2 separate regions of the Homo sapiens genome follow, and region 1 is linked to region 2. A link means that fine-mapping ties the variant in region 2 to the expression of a gene that starts in the linked region. Tissue or cell type: whole blood. Region 2 holds a variant in brackets; the other region holds the start of a gene. All regions are shown on one strand. Distances are between the middles of the regions.

Evidence for each region. PIP is the estimated chance that this variant, and not a neighbour inherited with it, causes the effect.
Region 1: it holds the start of KLHL6, and the variant in region 2 is fine-mapped to the expression of KLHL6 in whole blood (TOPMed, PIP 0.94).

The regions. Positions count from the first base shown.
Region 1 is chr3:183,550,533-183,560,797 of GRCh38, reverse strand. It overlaps KLHL6 (kelch like family member 6), which reads left to right and starts at 5,092. Exons shown (of 7, transcript NM_130446.4): 1 at 5,092-5,437. The coding sequence starts at 5,145. KLHL6-AS1 (KLHL6 antisense RNA 1) reads right to left here. Exons shown (of 2, transcript NR_046687.1): 2 at 8,472-8,745. RefSeq lists silencers at 74-123, 8,063-8,232.
Region 2 is chr3:183,501,096-183,511,360 of GRCh38, reverse strand. KLHL6 (kelch like family member 6) reads left to right here. Exons shown (of 7, transcript NM_130446.4): 3 at 2,853-3,302. Among named protein-coding and RNA genes, the nearest start is that of KLHL6-AS1, 43 kb to the left of the region's middle. RefSeq lists an enhancer at 2,334-3,533. The variant C/T (reference allele first, on the strand shown) is at 5,046.

The DNA of each region.
Region 1 (10,265 bases), 49 kb before region 2:
CTCAGGTATTAACTGGAACCAGAAAGAGGCCACAAGATGGCAGGCAAAGCTGGTCTTGTCTGAGGCATGGGTGGATATTTCATTTGCCTCACACTTATCAGGAAGACGTGAAGTCCTGAGTGTGCTCCTTCAGCATGGGGTGGGGTGTCAGGCGCTGGCTCAGGAGCTGGAAGTCTGGAACTGCAGTCCCATTCAGCTACTAACTAGCAAAGTGCTGGCATCAATGCATGTTGACTATTATTGTTATGGTTGTTATTACCTTTGTGTTGTCAAATAAAACATGGAAAATGATACAAACAAATGTATAGCTTAGTGAATTATTATAAGGCACACAATACTGTTGTAAACACCACTAAGGTCAAGAAATTGAACTTTGCCAACTACCCCAAATCTCTTTCACGTGTCCCTACCCAAACACAGCCCGGTGAAGGGACATGTTTGGTGTGTTCCATCCAGGTTTTGGCTTGGGATGTATTTAGTTGGAGGATGCCTCAAATGTTAGACCCTCAAGTGTAGATGTTAAGTAAGCAGTTGGATACCAATGTTTATCTAGTTATTGTAGCACAGAGCCTAGAGATAATCCAAGTTATCCAAGCCTGGAGATTATCCAAGTTATCTCTAAGCTTTGTGCTGTGATAATTAGATAAATATTGGCTTACTATTTGTTGAAACATCATTACAACCATCAGAAACATTAAGAAAAGATGTCTATTTCCCAGAACACAAAGAACAGGCAAAGATATATTAGGAAAAGTAAATGAAAAGAAAGCAGGAGTGGCAATAGAAACTCCAGACAAATCAGAAAATTATTTAAAGAAAAAAATTAACAGGATAAACAGGGATATTTAATACTAATAAAAGGTACAATCAATAGCAAGGATATAACAACACCGTACTTTGAACAGAGATTTAGAGCATTAAAATATATAAAGCAGAAGAGAGTGACTAGGGAGTAAGGTTTGATATCTATGTATAGGAGAAAGGTCACAGAAGCTGGGGATAGGGTATGGCATGGAATCTGTGTTGACCCTACCTCTTTCAGTGAGGCCCTCTTAGCTAAGCAGGAGGCCACCAGTGGGGCCAAGTGGGAGTCCTGGAGCCCAGCTCTGACATATGCAAAAATCTTAGACCCTCTTGAATTCCCACCTTTCTCCTCCTACCCTCCTGTCCTGTCTTACCTCAGTCTCCTTCATTCACCTGGCTTCATCTCTGCTTCACCTTGACACTGAAGTCTAAGGGCAGATTCAGTTTAACTAACTGGACCCTCCATAGTTTTTTTTTTTTTTTTTTTTGAGACGGAGTCTCACTCTGTCACCCAGGCTGGAGTACAGTGGCGCGACCTCGCCTCACTGCAAGCTCTGCCTCCTGGGTTCACACCATTCTCCTGCCTCAGCCTCCCAAGTAGCTGGGACTATAGGCGCCCGCCACTACACCCGCCTAATTTTTTGTATTTTTAGTAGAGATGGGGTTTCACCGTGTTAGCCAGGATGGTCTCGATCTCCTGACCTCGTGATCTGCCCGTCTCGGCCTCCCAAAGTGCTGGGATTATAGGCGTGAGCCACCGTCGCCAGCCGACCCTCCATAGTTCCATTGAACACAGCTTAACATATGACTTTTTTTTGCTTTTTTGTTTTGTTTGTTTGTTTGTTGAGACAAGGTCTCCGCTCTGTTGCCCAGGCTGGAATGCAGTGGTGAGAACATGGCTAACTGCAGCCTCCACCTCCTGGGCTCAAGCAATCCTCCCGCCTCAGCCTTCCAAGTAGCTGGGACTACAGATGCATGCCACCATATATGACTAATTTTTTTATTTATATTTTTTGTAGAGATGGGGTTTTGTCATGTTGCCCAGGCTGGTCTGGAACTTCTTGGCTCAAGCAATTTTCTTGCATTGGCCTCCCAAAGTGCTGGGATTACAGGCGTGAGCCACCACACCTGGCCCAAGCATATAACTTTTGGAAGCTGACCTTGGCCGCCTGCCAGGTCTCAATTTAAATTCATGACTATTAATCTTAAAAAGGGCGAGAAAGGAAAGATTAGGTCAGATCAGAAAGTAAAAATTTGCCCTCCCATTCATCAGGCTAGGAAGTCAGACACAGATGAAACATTAAAAAGAAACAACGTTTCTTCAAAGATTAGGTCAGATCGGAAAGTAAAAAATCTGCCCTCCCATTCATCAGGCTAGGAAGTCAGACACAGATGAAACGTTAAAAAGAAATAACGTTTCCTTAAGTGACTCCTTGCAATTATAAATGTGTCATAAGGATACCCTTCGTGGGTGACTACTTATTCTTACTGAGAAAAATTGTTTTCTAAAAATCACAGACCATCAGAAACTTTGTTGTTTGCCATTGTGTCAGTAAGAATGAGATCTCATAGTTGTCTGGAAGATCTAAATCACTTTGACACTGGGAAGCAGTCTCAATTTCCAACTCAGATACGGGGCTTCTGAATACAACATTCCACATCTATCTCAATTTTGTAGTTTCCAGGGAGAAAAGACTTTGGGTCCACTGTAAAGTCTAGACTTAATGTTTATCCTTTTACAGATAGTCCCACTGTGCTTTGAACCTATCTTGATACTGTTCATTTACATTTAACCTAAACTTGGGGCAGGTGCGGTGGTGTGAGCCTGTAGTCCCAGCACTTTGGGAGGCCGAGACGGGTGGATCGCTTGAGCCCAGCAGTTCAAGACCAGCCTGGCCAACATGGCAAAACCCTGTCTCCACTAAAGATACAAAAAATTAGCCAGGTGTGGTGGTGCATGCGTGTAGTCCCAGCTACTTGGGAGGCTGAGGCAGGAGAATCGCTTGAACCTGGGAAGCGGAGGTCGCAGTGAGCTGAGATCGCACCACTGTACTCTAGCCTGGGCAACAGAGTAAGACTCCGTCTCAAAAACAAACAAACAAACAAACCTAAACTCCAAATTTTCTTGTAATTTTTATTAGAGTAAAATAAACCTATAAATGTATTCGGAAAGAATTGGTCCTTTTAATAATATTTAGTCTTTCCATAAAGGAACTTGGTATATTTATTTAAGTTTTCTTTCGAAACTCTTAGTAAAGTTTGTTAGTTTTCTTTATGTTGCTGGTTGCTGTTATTGCTAGGCATTTACATATGTTTTATTACCATTGTGAATGGCATTATTTTTCCATGACTTTTTTTTTTTTTTTGAGGCAGAGTTTCGCTCTTATTGCCCAGGCTGGAGTGCAATGGCACAATCTCAGCTCACTGCAACCTCCACCTCCCGGGTTCAAGCGATTCTCCTTCCTCAGCCTCCCAAGTAGCTGGGATTACAGGTGTACGCCACCGCGACTGGCTAATTTTTGTATTTTTAGTAGAGATGGGGGTTTCACCATGTTGCTCAGGCTGGTCTTGAGCTCCTGACCTTGTGATCCCCCTGCCTTGGTCTCCCAAAGTGCTGGGATTACAGGCATGAGCCACCACGCCCGGCCGTCAGGTTTCTTTATATGCTCCATTATAATCTTTTGGGACCACAATTGTATATTCAGTCCATCATCGATTGAAATGTCATTGTGCTGGGCATGACTGTACTTGTGACCGTTAATTTTAGATGTCAAGTTTACTGGGCTAAGAAATACCTAGCAACCTGTTAAAGCATTACCATGGGGCGTGTCTGTGAGGTTGTTTCCAGGAGAGATTAGTGAGTCTGAGTGGACTCGGTAGAGAAGATACACTCTCAGTGTGGGTGGGCACCATCCAATCAGCCAGGGGCCCAGAGAAAACAAAAACAGAAGAAAGGTCGATGTCTCTATCTCCTGAGGCTGGGATACAGTCATCTCCTGCCTTGAACAACAGGACTCCAGGATCCCCTGCCTTTGGACTTCAGGACTTACACCAGTCTCCCCACCCCCTGGATTCTCAGGCCTTTGGCTTTGGACTGAGAGTTATACCATCTTCTCTGGTTCTGAGGCCTTTGGACTTGAACTGAGCTCTCAGCAGTCTGTCATGCGACTTCTCAGTCTCCATAATCACGTGAGCCAATTCCCCTAATAATTTCCCTCTGCTATGCCTCTCTAGGTATCCTTTTGGTTCTGTCTCTCTGGAGTCCATCATCGACTGAAATATCATTATGCTGGGTATGACTGTAATTGTAATGGTTAATTTTAGATGTCAAGTTTGCTGGGCTAAGAAATACCTAGCAACCTGGTAAAGCATTACTGTTGGGCGTGAGAGAACGCTAACTGATACGCTCCTATAACTTCCCCAGGATATCATGGGATTTTAATAATGACAGTTATTACTACTTAACTGAGACATGCAGAGGTAATGAAAATACTTCAGGATCCACCGTTAGATGCACGGTCAGTAGATGTTGGGCTAATCTGAGACGTGCTATGGCAATTCGGTGTAGACCCACCCTGACTCATCCTCTGAGAAGATGCTGTTGATGGAGTTTTGGAAACCATTTCTTCTGTGCCCCCAAAGCATATTCGAAACAATAGACATTTTTTTTGGTGGGGGAAGACATGAAAGTTTGCCATGACGTTGTTTTCCCCTGGGTAGGGAGGAGGATGAAGATAGACGATCTGCAGTGCCGCCAGAAATGAGAATGTCAGGGATAAGTGGGGTTTCCATGGTTTACAAAGCACGGTTGTTGGATCATTGTGGGGTCTCAGACTCCTGGGAGGAGGAAGTGGGAGGATCATAGACTGTCTCCTGTCCATCCCCTCGCTGACGACTTGGGTTATTGAGCCACTAGGAGTACAAATGTGAAGCAGGAGGATTATAGACTGTCTCCTGTCCATCCCCTCATTGACGACTTGGGTTATTGATAGCATTAGGAGTACAAATGTAACAGCCACCACCGGAGGCTTCCTGCTCACGGATATGAGGTGGGAGATGCACCAAAATAAACACACAGCACTCACAGTGGACTCTGAGAGGACACTCCTCTTCCAGAACCCCCTCCCACACACCTATTCTAAGTAATTTCTAACCCTGTGATTACTCACAGAAAGAAGAAGAATAGAAGTTGCTGGCATTTGTAGTAACAGGATGAGAAAGTGCGAGACTTCCTGTTATGTGTGTGTGACAGCTGGTGATAAGTGGAGGGCCCTGCACAGGAAATCCGCTCAGCTCCTGCAATGGGGCCTGCCTGACACTTGGGCGCTCCTTCAGTCTCGATGTTGATGGCAGGACAAAGGGGCGCCTGGACCATGGGTGATGTGGTCGAGAAGAGTTTGGAAGGGCCCCTGGCACCTTCTACAGATGAGCCCTCCCAGAAAACAGGAGACTTGGTCGAGATCTTAAATGGGGAAAAGGTCAAATTTGACGACGCGGGACTCTCCTTAATTCTTCAGAATGGCCTGGAAACCCTGCGAATGGAAAACGCTCTGACAGATGTCATCTTGTGTGTGGACATTCAGGAATTCTCCTGCCACCGCGTGGTGCTTGCCGCAGCCAGCAACTATTTCAGGTCAGCATGCCTAGGACCAGAGTCAAATTGGGTGCAAGTTGCAAGGAAGAGGTGTGTTAGTGTGAGAGCCCAATCTTGAACAGTTGGCCATGATATTTATGGTTTACATATATATTAAGGCTTGTGTGTCTACTTAAAATATAAGAAAGGACACTATCACACTTTATTTTATTATTTATTTATTTATTTATTTTTGAGACGGAGTTTTGCTTTTGTTGCCCAGGCTGGAGTGCAATGGCGCAATCTCGGTTCACCGCAACCTCTGCCTCCTGGGTTCAAGCGATTCTCCTGCCTCAGCCTCCCGAGTAGCTGGGATTTGCAGGCATGCACCACAACACCCGGATAATTTTGTATTTTCAATAGAGATGGGGTTTCTCCATGTTGGTCAGGTTGGTCTTGAACTCCCGACCTCAGGTGATCCACCCGCCTCCGCCTCCCAAAGTGCTGGCATTACAGGTGTGAGACGCTGCGCCCGGCTTATCACACTTTAAATTTTAGGATTTAGGCCACATTAAAAGAGAGATTGGCATCATTTAAAAGCAATGCTTACATTCTATAGTAAACCTTTTGTGTATATTTCCTTGTTCCAAAGGATGGAAAATTACTGAAGTCATGGGGACTTTTTTCCCCCTTGGTCTGACTGGTGTTGGAAACATAATGTTGTCTTTGTTAATCAACAGACATAGAGAAAAAGGATGTGGCCCCTCTTCTGGAGTTGTCAAATGACTTGTTACAAATTAGGGGCTTCTTTATGTGTAGGCAGTGTGGGGAAAGGGAAAGCAGTTACAAAGATGCTTTAGATGGGAGAGGCCTCTAGTTACGATAAACTGGTGATCTCATAGTGGGAAGGCCTGAAGTCAGGAGACTTGGTTCCTTCTTGACAGTGAAACTTTAGGCAAGTCACAAAGTGCTCTGAATGTCTGTTTCATCATCTGTAAGGTGAGCACAATGATGATCACCTTTCAGGGCTGTCATAATTAAACAAGAGCGTGAAAAGGGTCCTACACAGTGTCTAGCATATAGTAAGTAGATGCTCAATATATCTTTCTTGGAATTCTTTTTCTGATTCTGCTTGATTCAGCTAAGGATGACTTATTGAGTGTTTCCCATGAGCACGTCCCTGGGGTAGGAATTTTATAGCGCTGGGAACCCAGTGAATACACCTGATCCAGTGTTCTCCATATCAGCATGGACATGGGGGAACCAGCCTGCAAGGGCAATGTGGATAATGAAGAAAGTATTTGGGAACTTGAAAAGAAATACCCTTAGAATTCTTCTTAATGAGATTCTTCTTAACTCTTGATTCTGGCTGAGGAAATTGAAAACGATTAACCTATGAAAGTATTATGGAAAGCGTTTTCTTTCTTTCTTTTTTTTTTTTTTGAGGTGCTTGGGGGGAAACGTTTCTTTGTAATTCATAGAGCAGGATCAGCAGGTTGCTGTGGGACTCATTAGGTCTCCTGTGTTGATAAGACAAGGGGATATCTGGGTTTGAGGGAAGCAGTGGCTGCTGTGTGCCAGACAGACATAGTTATCTGATTTTATTTTTGTAACAGCATGATGAAGGTGGCTGATATTTCACAGATGAGGAAATGAAAACTCAGCATTATATATCTGGTCATTGCTGGAGCAGGGACTGGGTATGTTCTGGAAATCCTTGTTACTGCAATGCAAGCTGCCACTAGGTCTGGGACTTCATTCCATGGGAAGTGTGTAAAATATAAAGTGTAAACACAGCCATCAAAATGGGTTGATATAAACACATTACTTTCTCCACCAACCTTGATCACGTGCTTTCACGTTGACTGCAGCCCCTCTCAGGAGTGAGTGAAGTCAAGTTAGCTCAATGCCCTGGGGACGCACATTTAGGTTGATCCTTTTGTATCCCTTGCTATCATAAAATGCATACCTGGAAGCAGTTTTGTTAGCGGGTTGGCCTGGCTGTGGACCAGGCCCGCTGGCTGTGTGCCCTCGAGTTGATCACTGGTCTTCTCTGGTTCTTGGGTTTCTCATCCTAAATGGGAATTTGGGCTTGGGTCCTTCCAGCCCTGCTGATCCAGGATACTTAGGGAAAGTCTCTGCCGGTCGTCAGAGGAGGCAACGGCAATGAGAAGCTGGAGAACATGAGGGTGAAGGCATCTGACTGTGTATACAGAGCCTCTCCCAAAACTGCCTGGTCATGAGAGGAAATTCCTTCAATTCTTCTCTTCAGAGAAGTGACTTTTGCTTCTTCTCTTGGGATTTTCAACGTGACTTTCCTTCTACAATGAATACTGTCCTGGAGACAGGATTCTTTCTTCCGGTGCTACTATTCCTATCAACTCCTGTTTGTGGAGCGCTTACTGTGGGCCAGGCCCTGTAGCTTCTGTATCACATACTCTAGTCCACTCCACCCTCACAACAACCTGACAAGGCAGGGAGTCCTATCCCCAGCCTACCGACGGTGAGCCAAAGTCCAGAGTGTCACAGCAAATAAAAAGTAGCCAAGCTGGGATTTAGACCTAGGACTGACGTTAAATCTGACACACTCTCTCGCTTTGTGTCTGAGGTTTTGAAAGGGGTTCTTCGTATGCTCAGGTTTAGGGAGGTCAAAGAGTCTCTCTGTCTGAGAGGCTTTCTTTTTTTTTTTTTTTTTTTTTTTTTGAGACGGAGTCTCGCTCTGTCGCCCAGGCTGGAGTGCAGTGGCACAATCTCTGCTCACTGCAAACTCCGCCTCCAGGGTTCAGGCCATTCTCCTGCCTCAGCCCCCTGAGTAGCTGGGACTACAGGCACCTGCCACCACGCCCGGCTAATTTTTTGTATTTTTAGTAGAGACGGGGTTTCACTGTGTTAGCCAGGATGGTCTCCATCTCCTGACCTCGAGATCCACCCGCCTCGGCCTCCCAAAGTGCTGGGATTACAGGCGTGAGCCACCGCGCCCGACCAGTCTGTGAGGCTTTCAACACAGCTCTCTGTGTTTTGGAGGGCCTGGAAGCTGGTTATAAAATTATGTCATTTTTTTCCTTTATTCACTGAGAAAATAATTACTTTCCACTAAGGGACTGACAATAGTTTATTAAACAGTCCCCTACGGACAGACATCTGGACTATTTCTAATCCACATTTTGCTATTACAAACAATGTTGTAATGAATAACCTGAAACATGAGTTTTTTTCATATGCATTTCTTGAAGGGGGTTTGCTGAGTCAAATGCATCTGCAGTCTTAGCGGTTATTGCAACTTCTCTTTCATTGGGGTTGAATCATGTTGCGTTCCCCCACGGCATCACCAAAAGAGGGTGTCATCCAACCGCTGAAGTTTTACCAATCTGATAAATGAGAAAGAATATCTCAATTTAGCTTTAATTTGCATTTTTCTTATTTTTAGTAAGATCAAACATCTCTTCGTATGTTTAAGGGGCATCTGCAGTTCTTTTTTTGTTGAACTGTCTCTTCACTGCCTTTCTGTTTTTCATGTATTTTTTTAAAATTAAATTTTATTTTTTATTAAAGATATGCAAATAGTAAACAAAGCGTTAAATAGTATTTAAAGGCTTATAATGAAAAAACAAAAATTCCTATTTCCTCCTCCACCCTGTCTCATGCGCCAAAGGCTACCACTTTCAACTTCTATTTGTTTCTTCTGGCACTAGCTCTATATTTCTGCAAAATACACTTATACTGCTCTTTCTTGATTTTTCAGTGTTAGACATCATTCACTGATTTCAAATAAGGATTTAGTATCCTTACCTAACCTCTTACCATAAGCTTTCCTTCCCTGTAATCTTTCAACATAATGTTATCACAACAAGAGTTTACATTATTATGTTCACGAAAACCTTGTTCTCTGTTGAGCCAAATTACTCAATGATCACGTTTCTTTTCTTGTAAACCTTTTGTCTTTCCTGAAGTTATTAATTCACTCATTTTTTCATTTGCTTTGTTTTGGGGTGTCTTTTGCTCACAGGCTCACAAAAATCTTTCATATGGTCCAATGCATCAAACAATCTACCAGTTCCATTTCCTCAGAATCCTCCTGCCTTGCATCATGTTACACATGTTCCCTGGATTTGCACGCTGGCTGGGATTCACCTGCTTCTCCATCATTCCCCGGGACTGTCTGCTATGTTGAATGGAGCCTTCTCCCTTCAACCCCTATCTTTCTCTTCCCTGGTTTACCATCTTACCCTGATAAGCACATTCTCCAATAACTTCCTAAGAAAGAGTGCATGGGAAGTAATTTTTTTTTTTTTTTTTTTCTGAGACAGAGTCTTGCTCTGTCGCCCAGGCTGGAGTGCAGTGGCAGTATCTCCGCTCATTGCAAGCTCCGCCTCCTGGGTTCATGCCATTCTCCTGCCTCAGCCTCCCTAGTGGCTGGGACTACAGGCGCCCGCCACCACGCCCAGCTAATTTTTTTTTATTTTTAGTACAGACAGGATTTCACCATGTTAGCCAGGATAGTTTCAATCTCCTGACCTCGTGATCCACCCACCTTGGCCTCCCAAAGTGCTGGGATTACAGGCGTGAGCCACTGCGCCCAGCCCATAGGAAGTAAATTTTTAAGGCCTCGCATATATTTTTGTTTTGTTTTGAGACAGGGTCTTGGTCTGTTGCCCAGGCTGGAGTGCAGCAGCTTGATCATGGCTCACTGCAGCCTCCCTGGGCTCAAGCAATTCTTCCACCTCAGCCCCCCAAGTAGCTGGGACCACAGGATGTACCACCATGCCCGGCTAATTTTTGTATTTTTTTAGTAGAGATAGGGTTTCACCATGTTGGCCAGGCTGGTCTGGAACTCCTGACCTCAGGTGATCCACCCACCTCCGCCTCCCAAATTGCTGGGATTACAGCT
Region 2 (10,265 bases):
TAGGAGAAAAACCGCCCTGTGGCGGGAGGCGAGACATGTTGGCAGCAATGCTGCTTTATTATTCTTTATTCCACTGAGATGTTTGGGTGGAGAGAAGCAAAAATCTGGCCTACGTGCACGTCCAGGCATAGTACCTCCCCTTGAACTTATTTGTGACACAGATTCCTTTGCTCACATGTTTTCTTGCTGACCTTCTCCCCACTATCACCCTGCTCTCCTACTGCATTCCTCTTATTGAGATAGTGAAAATAGTAATCAATAAATACTGAGGGAACTCAGAGACTGGTGCCGGTGAGGGTCCTCCGTATGCTGAGCGCTGGTCCCCTGGGCCCACTGTTCTTTCTCTGTACTTTGCCTCTGTGTCTTATTTCTTTTCTCAGTCTCTCGTCCCACCTGACGAGAAATACCCACAGGTGTAGAGGGGCTGGCCCCCTTCAGCATTGACCCTCGGAGAAATGCTTTATTTATTTATTTATTTATTTATTTTGAGATGGAGTTTTGCTCTTGTTGCCCGGGCTAGAGTGCAATGACACGATATCAGCTAACCGCAACCTCCGCCTCCCAGGTTCAAGCATTCTCCTGCTGCAGCCTCCTGAGTAGCTGGGATTACAGGCATGTGCCACCACGCCTGACTAATTTTGTATTTTTAGTAGAGACGGGGTATCTCCATGTTGGTCAGGCTGGTCTCCAACTCCTGATCTCAGGTGATCTGCATGCCTCGGCCTCCCAAAGTGCTGGGATTACAGGCGTGAGCCACCGCGCCCGGCCTAAAAAATGCTTTTTAAACTGACAATCCTATGTGATCTGACACAGAAAGATAATATTTTGCAATAGAGGTTGATCCAAAAAGTCAGGGATGTGTTCCCTGGAATGCTCTGGAGTAAAGTCCAGAGCCTAGGTCACCTTGGTCCACTCTTAGAACCAGTCCTGCCCCACTATCAACCTTCAGGCTCGATAGCCCCACTCCCCACAGCTCCTGCCAACCCTCCCCAGTCAGGTCTGTCCTGTCCCTACTCTCACCAGGACCTGCCTTCAGAAGGCCTCCCCCACCCCCACCAGGTCTTGCCCCCTCAGCCTCCCCTTTCCTCTCCCCCCATTAATCGATCAACCCATGGGCACCAAGAACTTGACCCTATAAGGAGTCCAGTAGACGGGGAAGGGAGCTAGGAGGTTGAAATTGTTCAAAGCTAAGCTCCAGAGAACAACAAATAAGAATGAACCAATGCATTTGAGACATGTCATCTGTAAAATGGATATTACAAAATATAATGGATATAACAGTGCTTTGTCATCTGTAAAGTGCCCTACAAGCACAAGGGACTTGAATTTTTATGAGGATGGTGATAACTTAAAAGTGGGACCTGAGAGCCAATCAATAATTTTACAAATTGATTTTTTAATGACAAAAGCGGTACGTATTCATTTTAAAGGATATATAAATAAATAAAACATATAAATAAACAAAAACAGAAAAATTCTCATAGTCTTCTTAGAGTGTCATACCTTCTATTATTTATATAGTATATTCCCTGTCCATCCCATGAGACCTGTTTCTGTGGGAGAACTATGGTTCCCTTGATGACAAATTTTGCCATGTGACTTACTCTGGACGGTTTTGTGTAAATGGATATAGCATGCGCCCCCTCTGAGCAGAAGCTTTAAAAGCCTCTGTGTGGTTCTGCCATCTTTTTCCCCTTCTGTCATGGGACCAGCATGTCTCAGGTAAGGGCTTTCCATCTTCCTGGCCCCTGGAATGAAGAGCCCCGTGAAGAACACATAGTGGGTAAGAGGAACATTTATTGTAAGCCCCTGAGACGTGAGGGTTGTTTGCTGCTGCAGCAGAATTTGCCTTAAGATACCTGATAACCCAAAGAGATAACAACCATTAATATTTTGACCTACATCCTTTCATCTTCTTTCTATGACTTTATTCTGTGTATGTTTTCTTTATAAAAATAAGGTCACAATGTACATATGATTTGTGACGTGCTTTTCTCATTTTATCTGCAAATATTTCACTTATAGCTCTAAAAAATAAGGATTCTTCTTCAACATAAACATGAAACCATTATGGCACCTAAAATGAATCATAATTGTTTCATTAGCACCAAATATTAGTCATTGTAAACATTTCTCCAACTTTAAAAAATATATATTGTTTAAATCAGGAATCCAAATAAGATCCATACTTTGCAATTGGTCAATGTGTCTTAAATCTCTGTTTATCTTTAGGTTCTCCCTCTCCTTCTCTCTCTCTTTTATCCCCTTGTAATGTATTTGTTGAAGAAACTGAACAAGTTGTTCAGTAGAGTTTTCCACAATCTGGATTTTGCTGATCATGTTCCCATGACGTCTTTAGCAGGTTCCTCTTTCCCTGTATTTCCTGTAAATTGCTGAGTAAATGTAGAGGCTTAATCAGATCCAATGAACAGATTTTAAAACTCAATACATTATGAACATTTTCTATTTCATTTAATATTTTCTACAACATGTGTTTTAAGTATCTACAGAGCTATCGACTGTATGAATGAATTATATGTATTTAGCTAGTCCCGTAAGTGTCTCATTGTTTTAAGTCGACTGTATGAATGAATTATATGTATTTAGCTCCTCCCGTAAGTATCTCATTGTTTTGTCGACTGTATGAATGAATTATATGTATTTAGCTCGTCCAGTAAGTATCTCATTGTTTTAAGTCTACTGTATGAATGAATTATATGTATTTAGCTCATCCTGTACTGTTGGACATTTAGGTTGTTTCCAATTTTTGGCTAATACACATAACTCACTGATAAACCTCCTTGTGGACTCACCATTTTCTGGCCTCCTTTCCACCCTTTCTATTTCATCAGTTCCTGCGGATGGTGGATGCCTGTGCCAGCTTCCTCACTGAAGCCTTGAACCCAGAAAACTGCGTTGGAATACTGAGGCTGGCTGACACACACTCGCTGGACAGTCTAAAGAAGCAGGTTCAGAGTTACATCATTCAAAACTTTGTGCAGATTCTGAACTCTGAGGAGTTTCTTGACCTGCCCGTGGACACTCTGCACCACATCTTGAAGAGTGATGACCTTTACGTGACCGAGGAGGCTCAGGTGTTTGAGACCGTGATGAGCTGGGTCCGGCACAAGCCATCAGAACGACTCTGCTTACTCCCCTATGTCCTCGAGAACGTGCGCTTACCGCTTCTGGACCCGTGGTACTTTGTGGAGACGGTGGAAGCAGATCCTCTCATCAGGCAGTGCCCAGAGGTCTTCCCGCTGCTCCAGGAAGCCAGGATGTACCACCTTTCTGGCAATGAGGTGAGTAGAAGATAAGAGGTGCTATATTTAACCAGCGAAGTAAGGAGTTAGCTAGGGGCTCACAGAGATGCAAGCAAAGCGGATTCAAAAATCCTTAGGGCATTAAGGAGAAAACACTGCCCTGTTCATTGCTGAGTCGGTCAGTTCCAGAAGCCCTGATTCCTGATCTATGAGGCCGATCCCACGTGTTCAGACAGTTACTGAGCGCGTTAGGTGAGATGTAGAAATCACCCAGCACCATGCCTGGCCCGTGCTTCCTCTTCCCAGTTGTGGAAGGGTGGGAGGTTGGGGGTCACACTGCACGCACAAACAAGAATGTGCCCTGGGCCGGGCCTGGTGGCTCACACCTGTAATCCCAGCAGTTTGGGAGGCCCAGGGCGGGTGGATCACGAGGTCAAGAGATCCAGACCATCCTGGCCAACATGGTGAAACCCTGTCTCTACTTAAAAATACAAAAAAATTAGGTGGGCATGGTGGCATGCACCTGTAGTCTCAGCTACTCGGGAGGCTGAGGCAGGAAGATCACTTGAACCCGGGAGGCAGAGGTTGTAGTGAGCCGAGATCACGCCACTGCACTCCAGCCTGGGCAACAGAGGGAGACTCTGTCTCAAAAAGCAAAGCAAAACAAAACAAACAAAAAACAAAAAAAACAAGAACGTGCCCTGTCTAGTCACTATTCCATGGGGGTGCTGCTCTTCCTTGCCCACTCTGGTGAAATCTTGTGTCTCTTGTATATACTCTGACATCACTTTGATTTAGACTCTCACCATCTGAATTTCTGGAAATTTCTCAAAACTCATCTTCCTCCCCCAAGTCTGGCCTCCCTCCAATTTATTCACCAGCTGAAAGATCTGAAACTCAAGTCTGATCATCTTGCTCCTGGGCTTGCCTTCTTCATTGGCTCCCCATCACTTTCAGAATAAAGCCCATACTTCCTGCCTACGTTCCCAGAGCCTGGTCTTGCATCATTAATCTCCTGCCTGCTTCTCTAGTGTCCTCTCCAACCTCCCACTTCTGCTCTAGTCCTAATGCACAGCTTGTGGTTCCCCAAAGTGGATGTGCTTTTTCTGCCTCCAGGTCAATCTGAATGTTGTTCAAATGCTTTTCTCTTCTTCATCTAGCTGACTTCTACTCCTACTTCAAAACTCAGTCCAAGCATCACTTTCTCCAGAGACTTCTCCTTTTATTTATTTATTTATTTATTTATTTATTTATTTATTTATTTATTTTTGAGAGGAGGTCTTGCTCTGTTGCCCAGGCTGGAGTACAGTGGTGCAATCATAGCTCACTGCAGCCTCGACCTCCCAGGCTTAAGTGATCCTCCCACCTCAGCCATCCAAGTAGCTGGGAGTACAGGCATGTGCTACCACACCCGGCTAATTTTTAAATATTTTGTAGAGACAAGGTCTCACTATGTTGCCCAGGCTGGTCTTGAACTCCTGAGCTTAAGTGATCTTCTCATCTCAGCCTCCCAAAGTGCTAGGGTTACAGGTGTGAGCCACCACACCCAGCCACTCTCCGTGTTCTCATAGCACTTGGTGCATTGCTCCATCACAGCACCAACTGCTGCATGGCAATGATTTGAATTTATTATATGTAAATATCTCTAGACTGGGAGCTTGTTATAGTAGGAAATATGTCTTATTGCACTTTACATCTCTAGATCTTAGAAGAGAGTCCTGAGACTGCTATATAGTGAATGAGTAATTAGTAAATGCTTGTTGAATGATTAAATGGGTACTA[C/T]GAACGGTGAATAAACATGTCATTTGGATCTACCTGGTTCTCCTTAACAATTCCTGAAGAAGATTTTTCTTCAGAACTTTATAAAGACAAGAACAAATTTAGTGGAGAGGAAGTAATGATATAGGGACAGTTTGTTAACAGTTTGTACACATGAACACCCATACATATATCTCACTATGCAGTGGTTCTGGGATTAGCTACCAGGCTTTCTTCATTAGGCCATTGGTAGAAGCCTTAGCCAAACGTGGCCCAGGAATTGTCTGTCTGAGGTTCTTTTAGAGTTTCTCCCTTTTTCTGTGTGTTCTTTTCTAGTTTTTTTGTTGTCCTTAGATCCACTGTTCATTCATTCACTCTGCAAACATACCCTTAAATGTTTAGTAGAATTTACCAGAGCCTGGTGTTTTCTTTGTGGAAAGTTTTTAAACTATAATGTATATCTCTTTAATAGATATAGGACTATTTAGGATCTCTGTTTCTTCTAGAATGAATTTTGATAGTTTGTGTCTCAAAGAATTTTTTCATTTAATATAAGTTGCTGAATTTATTGGCATAAAGTTGTTCACAGCATTCCTTTATTATCTTGTTAATACCTGCAGAATCTATAGTGTTGTCACATCTCTCATTCCAGATATTGGTAATTTGTGTCTGCCCTTTTTTTTTTTCCTGATCAATCTGGTTAGAGGCTTATCAATTTTATTGATTTTTCTCAAATAACTAATGTCTAGTTTCATTTGATTTTCTCTATTGTTTTTCTGTTTTCTATTTCACCTATTTCCACTCTGATCATTATTTTCTTTCTTTCTGCTTAGTTTGGGTTTAATTTGCACTTATTTCTGTAGTTTCTTAAGGTGGAAGTGGAGGCCACTGATTTGAGACTTTCTTTCTAATATTGGCTTTCATGCTATAAATTTCCCCCTAAAAACTACTTAAACAGCATCCCATGTATTTAAGCACGCTATGCCTTCATTTTTTGCAAATAAATCCTGAACACCAATTCCTTGCCAGATATGGCACCAGGTACTGCAAAAACAGTCTGTGTCTTACCCAGGTACTGCTAAACAGTCTGTGTGTCAGAGAAGATGGGACATTTAACAAATGAAGGGTGATGAGTGGATTGATGGGGGGAGCCTAGGAAACCACATAGGTCCTATTCTATGCTGGATGTCTAGCAGACAGCCTGCATATAATTGCAGACAGGTTTCAGTCTCCGTAACTGCCCTCAGTTCAGCATTTATTCAGTGTCTCCCATGGAATACTACACAGCCATAGAAAAGAATGCAATCATGTTTTTTGCAGCAACATGGATGGAGCTGGAGGCCATTATCCTAAGTGAACTGACACAGGAACAGAAAACCAAATAATGCATGTTTTCACTTATAAGTGAGAGCTAAACATTGAGTACACATGAACACAAAGAAGGGAACAAAAGATACCAGGGCCTACTTGAGGGTAGAGGATGAGAAGAAGGTGAGGACTGAAAAACTACCTATCAGGTACTATGCTTATGTATGATTTCATCATACGGATGATGAAATAATCTGTACACCAAACCCCCACAACACACAATTTACCTATATAACAAATCTGCACATGCTGAACCTAAAAGTTAAAATAAATAGCACTTTAAAACAATTTAAACATATACTGTGCCTTGATCAACTATACTTCCAATATTTTTGCTATTTTTGTTTCTGCTTCCTATTTTCTAAGTCCTTGAAATGCAGATGATAAAGATTTTCTCTGATATAAAAGGTCCCTACCCTGTCTTCTGCAAAATTGCTGCAATGAAATATTTTTATTGCCTTTTGTATTTCCGAGGTGCTGGGGGCAGAGTCAGACATTATAAGCTTTAGATTTAGGAGGAGAGAGAATTCTGACATCTGGAAAATTCTTCAGTGGTGAGAACCTGGGCTTGGAGTCAGGCAGAGATCTGGGTGTTAATCTTGACTCCACAATTTATTTACAGTGTAATCTCAGGCAGTTACTTAGCTATGCTAAGGCTCAGTTCTGATCTGTAACATGGGGGTAATAATACCTACCAACTGATAGAACTGTCTTGAGAGTTAAGTAATGAATGGAACGCTTAGCACAGTGTCTGGTACAAGCTAAGTGCCCCACAAATGGAAGCTGTTGCCATTGCCACTTGGTTCGTTTATTGTTGCTCCATCTCTCACAATCAATCATTTTCCTTCTCTGGGGTTAAAACCAGTCTTTTCACTGTGTCTCAGGTTTTTGTGGCCTTATTTTCCCAAATCCTTCTCAAGGCACTTTCTCATCTTCATTTTATAGTTTGGACAACTGAACCAACCAACCAGCCACCATGACCTCCTAATTGGGGTCTCATTGCCAGTTGATTCCCTGAGTCAGTCTGCTCCCTGCTGGAATGGTCTTGGGTTGACTCCTGATGACAGTAGTGTGAGCCTGGAGGCTACTCTGTGAACACATTTCTCCCCGTACCCTTCATTTACCAAACTTTAACCCTCTTGTCCTATCATCATCTTTCCCATTTTTGTTTTATTTTGTTTTGTTTTTTCTTCAGACAGACTTTTGTTCTTGTTGCCCAGGCTGGAGTGCAATGGTGCGATCTCGGCTCACTGCAACCTCTGCCTCCCAGGTTCAAGAGATTCTCCTGCCTCAGCCTCCTGAGTAGATGGGATTACAGGCATGTGCCACCACCCCTGGCTAAGTTTGTATTTTTAATAGAGACGGGGTTCCTCCATGTTGGTCAGGCTGGTCTCAAACTCCCAACCTCAGGTGATCTGCCTGCCTCGACCTCCCAAAGTGCTGGGATTACAGGTGTGAGCCACCGTGCCCAGCCCATCTTTCTCTTCTAACCTTGCCCATCCTCTAAACTGGTGTTAACAACAGGAAATTTTAGAACACACCAAAAGCAAATGTCAGTCTCCATTTGATTTGGGAATGGTAGCTGGAACCTTCATTGAAAGAGAACTTTGGGGACAGAGGAAATTTGCCTCTTCATTTAACTGCCTCTTAAGTTTTCAGACATGAACCTGATCTATACCAAACATTACTCTGACATGTGTGATGTGGGGAAAGGGGAGCAGAGGCTCCAGCCCAAGGACAGCTTTGCTGAAACAATATGCTCACTCTGTCCCCTAGTATAAGATCTGTGGACAGTGAGCAGTCATTAAGGTGCAATTATCTGCTCTGTTTTTAACAATCTGAAAATAAACTGGTTATGCCTGATTGTTGCATGCAATTCATTGGCAAACACTTCCATATGTCTGCAACAAAGTGGCACGTCTCAGACTTCAGATTGACATTTGTCATGGCTTTGGGGTTAGTATTTTGCCAAATGTAGCTGAACTTACAATGTGGTAATGATGCCACCACTCGGCAGCTCCGTGGTGCTGAATTATAAGACAGGTCTCATTACCCTAGCCAAGCCCATCAGCTAGATGATTGTGTTAGTTCTCAATTGCTGCATAACAAATTACCCCCAAACTGAAAACTTTAAAATAACAAACACTTACTATCTAACAGGCTCTGAGTGTCAGAATGTAGGAGTGGTTTAGCTGGGTGCTTCTGGCTCAGGGTCTCTTATGAAGTTGCAGTAAAGCTCTTGGCTGGGGCTGCAGTAATCTCAAAGTTCATTATGAGATTCAAGCTCACACTTACTGTACTGTTGGCAGGCATCAGATCCTTGCTGGCTGCTGGTTGGGAGCCTCAGTTTCTTGCCATATGGGCATCTCTATATCAGCTGACCTCCCCCAGAGCAAATGACCTAAGAAAGACTGAGAGAGCAATCAGGATGCAAGCTGGTAGTGCCTTTTATAGCCTAATTTCAGAAGTGATGTATCATCACTTCTGCTGTAATCTGTTGGTCATAGAGACCAATTCTAGAACAGCATGGAGGGAACTACACAGATGTGAATACCAGGAAGCAGGGATCACTGGGGCCATCGTGGATGCTCACTACCACAATGATTTAGACTGAGTTACCTAGCTTGCCCATTCATTCACTCATCCATTCACTCATTTTTTTTTTTTTTGAGATGGAGTTTCGCTCTTGTTGCCCAGGCTGGAGTGCAATGCTGCGACGTTGGCTCACTGCACCCTCTGCCTCTTAGATTCAAGTGATTCTCCTGCCTCAGCCTCCCGAGTAGCTAGGATTACAGGTGCCTGCCACCACACCTTGCTAATTTTTTTATTTTCTTTTTTATTTTTAGTAGAGACTGGGTTTCACCTTGTTGGCCAGGCTGATCTCGAACTCCTGACCTCAGGTGATCCACCTGCCTCGACCTCCCAAAGTGCTGGGATTGCAGGCGTGAGCCACTGCACCCAGCTCACTCGCTCATTTAATCAATGTTTATAGATGCCCACAAGCTCCAGGTACTATTCTTGGTGCTGAGGATCCACTGGAGAAAAAGGGCTGTTCCTGCCATCAGGGGCCTTACGGTAAATTACAATGAAGCATGAAAAGGGCCGTTGTGGGGGAAATTCAGGGTTATGAGAATGTGTGCAAAGTTAGGAATGGCTTCCTGGAGAAAAGGGCAAAGTGACATGGTAAATTACTCACAGTGCCTTAAAGGGTAAGTGGATTGGGGTGGTAGCATGGGAAATTGAGAATAGAATATTATGGGGAGATCCAGGCAGCAGGCAGGGACCCAGGAAATTTAGCCAGCAGGAGGAGAGCCTTTCGTAGGTCAGGACCAAGGAACGAGGTGCCAGCCCTGGGGGTCAGGAGGTAAGATCACGGCTAGTCCAGTCCTCCTAGCAGCCTCTCAATCACCCAACAGGTTACTGGGTCAGGAGAGCAAGCATTGCAGATAAGACGAGGGGAGCTTCGGAGTGGAGGCTGAGGCCTGGTTCCCGGAAGTGAAGAAAGGGTCATAAGGGAATGAATTCAGGGAGGCCGGTGCTTTTTTCTAAGCATTGCCCTGAAACACCTAGATCCCCTCCGAAAGAGGACCACATAGATTAGTGCTGGTGGCTGTGCCTCAGCTGTGGGGAAGGTGGTTTAGGGACAGGAACCAGGGCTGACACCTGAAGAGAAAGTTGCAGAGCAGCAAAGTTTGTCTTTGGTGCCATTGCCCAGATCCTGTCCTGCCAGCTTGGTGCTCTCATGGTGCCTCCAGGTTCCCTGGCCCACCCCTTCACCCTTATCCCGGCACTGTTCTGCTGTCCATACCGTCAGGGCCAGCCCATTGCCTAGGCTTTGTCCAGCCACACCCATCCCCACTCTGCTGACCTGTAAGG